Homo sapiens: one gene and its partner. The protein of the gene in region 1 interacts with the protein of each later gene in a pairwise test. Each region holds a gene or a part of one and is shown on either strand. Other genes may lie near its edges. The genes, in order: ZFAT and YY1AP1.

The links.
Region 2: the proteins of ZFAT (region 1) and YY1AP1 interact in a two-hybrid assay, tested with the Homo sapiens proteins (one large-scale study listed by BioGRID and IntAct).

What each region holds. Positions count from the first base shown.
Region 1 is NC_000008.11:134,604,881-134,608,703, reverse strand, and holds part of ZFAT (zinc finger protein ZFAT), read left to right. Parts: intron 1-3,823. UniProt on the Homo sapiens protein: May be involved in transcriptional regulation. Overexpression causes down-regulation of a number of genes involved in the immune response. Some genes are also up-regulated.
Region 2 is NC_000001.11:155,675,052-155,678,874, reverse strand, and holds part of YY1AP1 (YY1-associated protein 1), read left to right. Parts: intron 1-2,128; coding exon 2,129-2,327; intron 2,328-3,778; coding exon 3,779-3,823. UniProt on the Homo sapiens protein: Associates with the INO80 chromatin remodeling complex, which is responsible for transcriptional regulation, DNA repair, and replication. Enhances transcription activation by YY1. Plays a role in cell cycle regulation.

The DNA of each region.
Region 1 (3,823 bases):
TCAGCCAGAGGTTGCATGTGAGTGAACTCCACAGAGTGCAGGAAGGATCAGCATGCTTGTTCGTTTGGATTCTGCTTATAAACTTGTTTATAAGAGATACTGACTCCTTGATTCAGCAGTAGAATTACCCCTCCATGGCAGCCCTCGGTGTGCTCGCTGAGCCTCCAGTGTGTTGCAGAGTAGCATGTTTTTAGAACTGAGCACCAACTGGCTTAATGAAGCCAGAGCATTTTATTTAAAGAAAAACTATTTTTTACCTTAATAAAAAGAAATAGAAACATAGCTTAAGTAAAGTTTTAGACATTTATAGCTTCACTTACTACCGTTTAGAAAAATATTTATTTCCTTCCCACTTTCAAAAGTAACACAAGTGTGTTGCAGAAGGCTCACATGTCCCATATGATGTGGCATTAAAGTAACCTAGAGTTACTGTTTCTGGAGGTAGTTTAGTTCATGTGCTTCTACAAGTTTTTTGAAATATACTAACATATATTGGTTTAATTTTGTTGTTTTTTGCAAATACTAAATACCAAAAGTACTGTTTTCAACTTTTTTTTAAAAGCTTACTACACCTTGAAAGTCTTTCATTTTTAGTACACAGTTTAAAAAGCTGTGTTTGCTATTATGTGGATGTATTTTAGTTTATATAGCCAGTTTTTACTATTACGGACAATGCAGTGATTAATGTTTTGGTGTATACATCTTTCCATACTTCAAGACCTCCTGTGGAATCCATTGCTAGAGTTGAAATTGCTACAGCAAAGGATATGAGTGCCTAGTGCTTAACTGACATTAAAAACTGTCCTCCAGATACACTGGATCAGTTGACCACCCATAGCAAACCAGTGTGTTTCTCTACAGTCTCCCCAAATTGTCTGTCTTTAGCCTGTACCTGCTGAAGTCAGTTAACAAACTCTGATCCCCAGAGGTCTGAAAACATTTCTCCCAGCTAGAAGGAAAGACAAAGAAAATGCCAGTTGCCAGTGGTTTTCCTCTGTTTCTGGAAGAAGAGAAATGGGGTGTTTTTGAGTAGAACATAAGCTTCAGAATGAAATAGACCTAGGTTGGCTCTAGACTACTCTGTATGAGTTCAGCTCAACAAATTGAACACCTCTTATGTGCTGGGCACTGGTGATATGACAAAGAATCAGACAGTTGCAGCCCCTGCCCTGATGAAGCTTACACTCCATTGTAACTTGACACACGTTACTTTGCATCTAACATTTGTTGCACAATTTTAAGACTGTCTAATAGAATTTTAGTTTAGTAGTGAGAATAAGAGATAAAATATGCAAAGTGCCTGGCACATGTAGTGCTCTCATTAAATTATATTATTATATCATGTGGTATGCTTCATTAATTTGTAGCTTCAATCCTCTATTCTTGTAAATGTGAACAATTGAATTTATTGATGAAGTTGTAAAAATACTCATTCCTTTGGTGAATTCATAATAGAATTAAGTCTCTAAAATCATTCTGTGTTTCAAGTCAGGTTGATTTGTAGACCTTAATTAATTATCTTCACAATATTTCAAGGTCTGTTGGCGGGGAGGTTCAGCTAAATGTTAATCTAGTTACAGGTAAATACACTGAATATTTAATCAACAGATCTAGGCTATATTTTTGTTGTCATGCATTCTATTAATATTTTATTGTGCAAATTATAAGATAACTATAAAAGAGATGTTTTTGCGTAAGGATTTTACTTTGTAAAATACAGATAAAAACTTTTAGGTTATATAATTCTTCTCTCATAACAAATGATACAGAGTTATTATATAAAAAATTTTGGAAGTCCAGAAAACTGAGGGAAAAAAAGTCATTTATGATCTTATTGCCCAAAGATAACCACTTATTATTTTAAATGTGTTTTCTCCCAGCCTTTTTTTCAGCATGTGTATTTTATAAAATTGAGTTTATATTTTATAGCGATTTTGTATCTCACTTTTTAAAACTTTTTTTTTTTTTTTTTTTCTGAGACAGAGTCTCACTCTGTTACCCAGGCTGGAGTGCAGTGGCACAATCTTGGCTCACTGCAGCCTCTGCCTCCCAGGTTCAAGCTATTCTCTTGCCTATTCTCTTGCCTCAGCCTCCTGAGTAGCTGGGAATACAGGTGTGCACCACCACGGCCAGCTTTTTTTTTGGATTTTCAGTAGAGTTGGGGTTTCACTATGTTGGCCAGGCTGTTCTTGAACTCTTGACCTCAAGTTATCCACCAGCCTTGGCCTCCCAAAATGCTGGAATTACAGGCGTGAGCCACTGTGCCCGGCTGTCACTTTTTAAAACTTAATCACATTACATTTATATGCCTTTGTACTCAAATGAATCACAAACATTTTGCTTTATAGCAACAAGGCATAACTTCATGAGGATATAGTGTTATCAACTCAACTCTTGACATTGGAGCCAACAAGATCTTTTAAAAATGCTCATCTGATTGTTACCCTTTTAGGCTTTGTCTTGCTCTTAGGGGTGCAGGGGGCTTCCAAGACTAGCCCTGCCACCTCTGAGGCTTGTCCACCTGCTGTGGTTCCCCAGTACTCTTGCTGCTGCCATCTGTTCCAGCCATCTGGGCCTCTTTTCACTTCCTTAGTCTCTTATTGCAGGCACCGCTTCCTTTTCCTGGATGCCTTTCCTCCCTCTTGCTTAGTTAATGCTTATCTGTCCTTCAGCTTTCTGCTCAAATGTCTTGTCCTCAGGGAGGCCTTCCCTGTCCCTAGACCAAGTCAATCTACCCTGACTGGACTCTCAGAGTGTCCGGCCGTTATCCTTCTCACAGGGAGCCTGATGGTCCTTGTCTGCTTACTTTTATATTTAGTACGTAGGCTGGCCTATGGCACTTTCTGGAAGGTGAGCTCCAGAGGGCAGGGCTGTGCTTGTTTTCATTCCCTTTTGTATCCTGAGTACCTGGAACACTTTTTTAAGGGAATGAATAAGTGAAGAAAGATAAACGTGCAAACAAACTAGTTCCCTATGTTGGTACCTTCGAACAGCTTCCCATTCTTAACTATTGTGGAAAATGAGCCATGAGCACCATCATCTGAATTTTGTATTCTTTCTTTTGGATAAATTCCCATAAGTGGAATAACTGGATTAAGGAGTAGGACCTCTTAAAGTTCTGCTGGATTTCTTTCTTTTTTTTTTTTTTTTGAGATGGGGTCTGGCTCTGTGGCTCTGTCTCCCGGGCTGGAGTGCAGTGGCGCGATCTGGGCTCACTGCAAGCTCCACCCCCTGGGTTCACGCCATTCTCCCGCCTCAGCCTCCCGAGTAGCTGGGACTGCAGGCGCCCACCACCACACCCAGCTAATTTTTTGTATTTTTAGTAGAGACGGGGTTTCACCGTGTTAGCCAGGATGGTCTCGATCTCCTGACCTTGTGATCCGCCCTCCTCAGCCTCCCAAAGTGCTGGGATTACAGGCGTGAGCCACTGCGCCTGGCCGGATTCCTTTGTAAAAGCAGTGGTGAGAGTACCTCTCTGAGGAGGCAGCATTTGGAATAAAGTGACTTCATAGAACTCGCATGGACATCGAAGCTCTGGCATCAGTTCACTGTCACAGTCAATGACTTGGACTTAAGGGTCAGATGGAGGCTGTGTAGCATCCTCATCAGACTCACTATCCTCGAGGGGAACCTGGGCACTAAGGGCTTTACCAGGTATTTGCCTAATAATACAAAAAGTCAGAGCAAAAGATTCTCCTAAGACCATTTAGATCTTGCAGTAGAGGAGAAAATATGCAAAGTCTTGATTTATTTATTTAATTAATGTTATGAATCCAGGGTTTCTTTCTTTGGCATTCTTTGTGCCAATAATATGTATCACCTT
Region 2 (3,823 bases), on another chromosome or scaffold:
ATTTGCATCTGCACTTTATTCTGTTGTAGCAGCATATAATCATTAGGTCGATGGCGAGAGGTCAGGATGCAGTTTGTGCCATAAGTGGAACAAAGCAAAGAGAATAGTCCCTGTAATTAGTCCTGTGTTTGAACTTAACAGCACTACTAAGCAGAGAGCTTGGGTTCCATCTGAAAGCTAGACCTTTAGGGATTTTCCAATTTAGTGAAAAAAGATAAGATAGGCCAACCAATGTCTTAAAAACTAGAACTACTAGTCATTCTCCATTACAACAAATATCACAATACAACTACATCAAAAATCTCAAGATTGCTAAGTCAGTATTTGACCCATTATTTTAATTTATAGTTCATAGAACAAAATTCTGGTATAGCAGAATGGAACCATTCATCCTGGGAACGTATAATAGGATCTGATTAATAAATATTTTGGTTTTGCTGATCAACTCTTTATAACTTCTTAAAATTTGGAAAATATAGAACTAATTTAAAATTCCTGTTAGAATCCAGTTACCTTCTGGTATTCAATGGAATATAGTCATATATCATCTCATGGTCATACCCTCTGTGAAATCTATCATTAAACGATTCATCATTGTGTAAACATCGTAGAATGTACTTACATAAACCTAAATGGTTTAGCCTACTGCATACCTATTGCTCCCAGGCTACAAAACCTGTACAGTGTGTTACTGTACTGTACTGAATACTGTAGGCAGTTGTAACACAATGGTAAGTACATATGTATGTAAACATAGAAAAGGTACAGTAATCTTATGGAGCCACCTCTGACTATGTGGTTCGTTATTGACTGAAACATTCTGTGGCGCATGACTGTACTTGGGCAGCTTCTGCTTCTCTTTCGATTGCAAATACAAACCTGTTTTTGTTTTAATCTTTGACTAAATAAAAATCCCTCTGTAAGTCCATAGAGAGTAAGCACATCTTAAAACACAATAAGGAAGAGAGAGGAGAAAAAGACAGTCAAAACAAAAACTCTGGGGCTTCCCTTATCAATTACCTAAATAATCCTTGTTAAAACTAAGTGCAGGCTATGTTTCCATTTTCTACTTTTTTATGCTTCTTCTCTTCTGTTCCTTCAGTGGTGGTAGCGCGGATGTTCAAATTTTCAGTTCTCAGTAAAGATTGTATAGACAGTCCCACGGTCTTCAGGTTTTTACTCTGTGCTACCCAAACCTACAGTAAATACTATAAAAGAAAACTTATTCAAACGTAATCTTTATCTGCAAAAACTATTGAAAAACGTTACCATTTAACTATTGCTGTAATATAGGGGGTTCCTTGAAATATGATAACCTGCTTGTTATAGCTACTTCAGCAGATCTTATCCTGTTGCATAGGGTATCAGCATATGCTTAATCATTTAGGTATATTATTCTCCCTTTATTTCTTTCTATGTAAACATAGAAAAGGTATAGTAATCATACATAGAACTGACATGCTAGGTATTGGAATTTTTGCTTCAGCCCTGCAAACAATCTTTCAGGAGGGTATGGATGGGAAGTTAGGGTTAGGAACCTTGGAAGAGGAATTTAAAGGGCTAAAAGAAGATAGCCTTCATGGATAATATTTTAACTAACTTCTCCGTTCTGTTCATTTGAACTACCATGTACTTCAGTTATTTTGGTATATCCTTTTCCTGCTTCATGCTAGAAAGTCTTTGACTTGTTAAGAAAGCAGGGCAGTGCAGCCTGAGTAGATAGGATAATGGGACAAGCTGGACCTGGGATGGGAGTAACATCCCAGGGAGTAACAAGTAATGAGAGAAGAAATGAGAATGATGAGTTCCCACCAGCTCCTTGGCTGCTTTCTTACCCATATATTTCTCTGTCCCTAGTTTTTTGTTTAATTTTTTCTTCATTTGTATATTATTTGGAAGAGGAATTGTAGAGGAATGGGATGGGGTGTAATACAGAATCATTTGATGCATGCTAACTACTTTGGGAAAAGATTTGTGTAAGGCTGGGAGTTTGACTGTTGGCTAAAGTGAAAAGGGGGGATTAGTAGGGAATGAAAATTGTTCAGGCTCTTTGCTCATCATTGCAAAGAATTGGATGTGTTGTGGACCTAGGAAAACACTCAAATTCAGTCATCCCCGTTTGGGATAGGTTTGAGGAACTACTGGCCAACCTACTAAATGAACAACATCAGATAGCGAAGGAACTATTTGAACAGCTGAAGATGAAGAAACCTTCAGCCAAACAGCAGAAGGAGGTAGAGAAGGTTAAACCCCAGTGTAAGGAAGTTCATCAGACCCTGATTCTGGACCCAGCACAAAGGAAGAGACTCCAGCAGCAGATGCAGCAGGTAACACTTTCCTTGGTCATATTAATATTGAATTATACCAAGGCCTAACTCTGAGGCTTTGGTATAATCTAAAATTAGCAGCTTTGTAAATGTCAGAGATAGTTACCTTACTACGTATTAAAACCGTAGTATCTTCACATCAGTTAGGAGCTTGAGAAGTCATCATGTTCATGTCCTGTGGCTCAGGGAAGACAGCACATAAGGACCCTAATGGTATTCGGAATTACAGATTTCAAAGAGTCCTCAGTAATCTATTCTGAAATTTAACCTTCACTGTGACAAGTAGTTTTTTTTCCCTTTTCCCTTTTCTTTTTTCTTTTTTTTTTGAGACGTAGTCTCGCTCTGTCACCCAGGCTGGAGTGCAGTGGCTCAATCTCAGCTCACTGCAAGCTCTGCCTCCCGGGTTCACGCCATTCTCCTGCCTCAGCCTCCCGAGTAGCTGTGACTACAGGGACTCGCCACCACACCCAGCTAATTTTTTGTATTTTTAGTAGAGACAGGGTTCACTGTGTTAGCCAGGATGGTCTCGATCTCCTAACCTCGTGATCCACCCGCCTCGGCCTCCCAGAGTGCTGGGATTACACGCGTGAGTCACTGCGCCCGGCCTTTTCCTTTTCTAATCTCAGTTCCTCCTCTGTTTAGAGGTTAAACTTCCTCTGGTTCTGTCATTTTGTTCAAGGGAACATGTCTGAGAAATTTATGCCAAGATCCTACGTTGTTCTCACACTCTTTGCAGAAAGCAAAATTTGTGTCATAAAGTTGCAAACATCTTAGTTAATGACTCTCTGGTGGCTGGGTGCAGTGGCTCACACATGTAATCCCAGCACTTTGGGAGGCTGAGGTGGGAGGATTGCTTGAGCAGGGGAGTTCAAAAGCAGCCTGGACAACATAGTGAGACTCTGTCTCTACAAAAAATAAAAATAAGGCTGGGCACAGTGGCTCACACCTGTAATCCCAGCACTTTGGGAGGCCAAGGCGGGTGAATCATGAGGTCAGGAGTTTGAGGCAAGCCTGGCCAACATGGTGAAACCCCGTCTCTACGAAAACAAAAAATTAGCTGGGTGTGGCGGCGGGCACCTGTAATCCCAGCTACTCGGGAGGTTGAGGCAAGAGAATCACTTGAACCTGGGAGGCAGAGGTTACAGTGAGCCGAGATCACGCCATTGCACTCCAGCCCAAAAGTCAGTGCGAGACTCTGTCTAAAAATAATAATAATAATAATAATAAAATAAATTAGCCAGGCATTGTGGTCACAGCTACTTGGGAGGCTGAGGTGGGAAGATTGCTTGAGCACAGGTGGTTGAGAGGGCATTGAGTCATGGTTGCACCACTGCACTCCAAGCTGTGTGACAGAGCAAGACCCTGTCTCCAGGGGGAAAAAAAAATATCTCTGGGCTCCTGAAATGGCAGTGTCATAACATATCACTGCATTATTTTCTTTCTCTCCCCAGCATGTTCAGCTCTTGACACAAATCCACCTTCTTGCCACCTGCAAC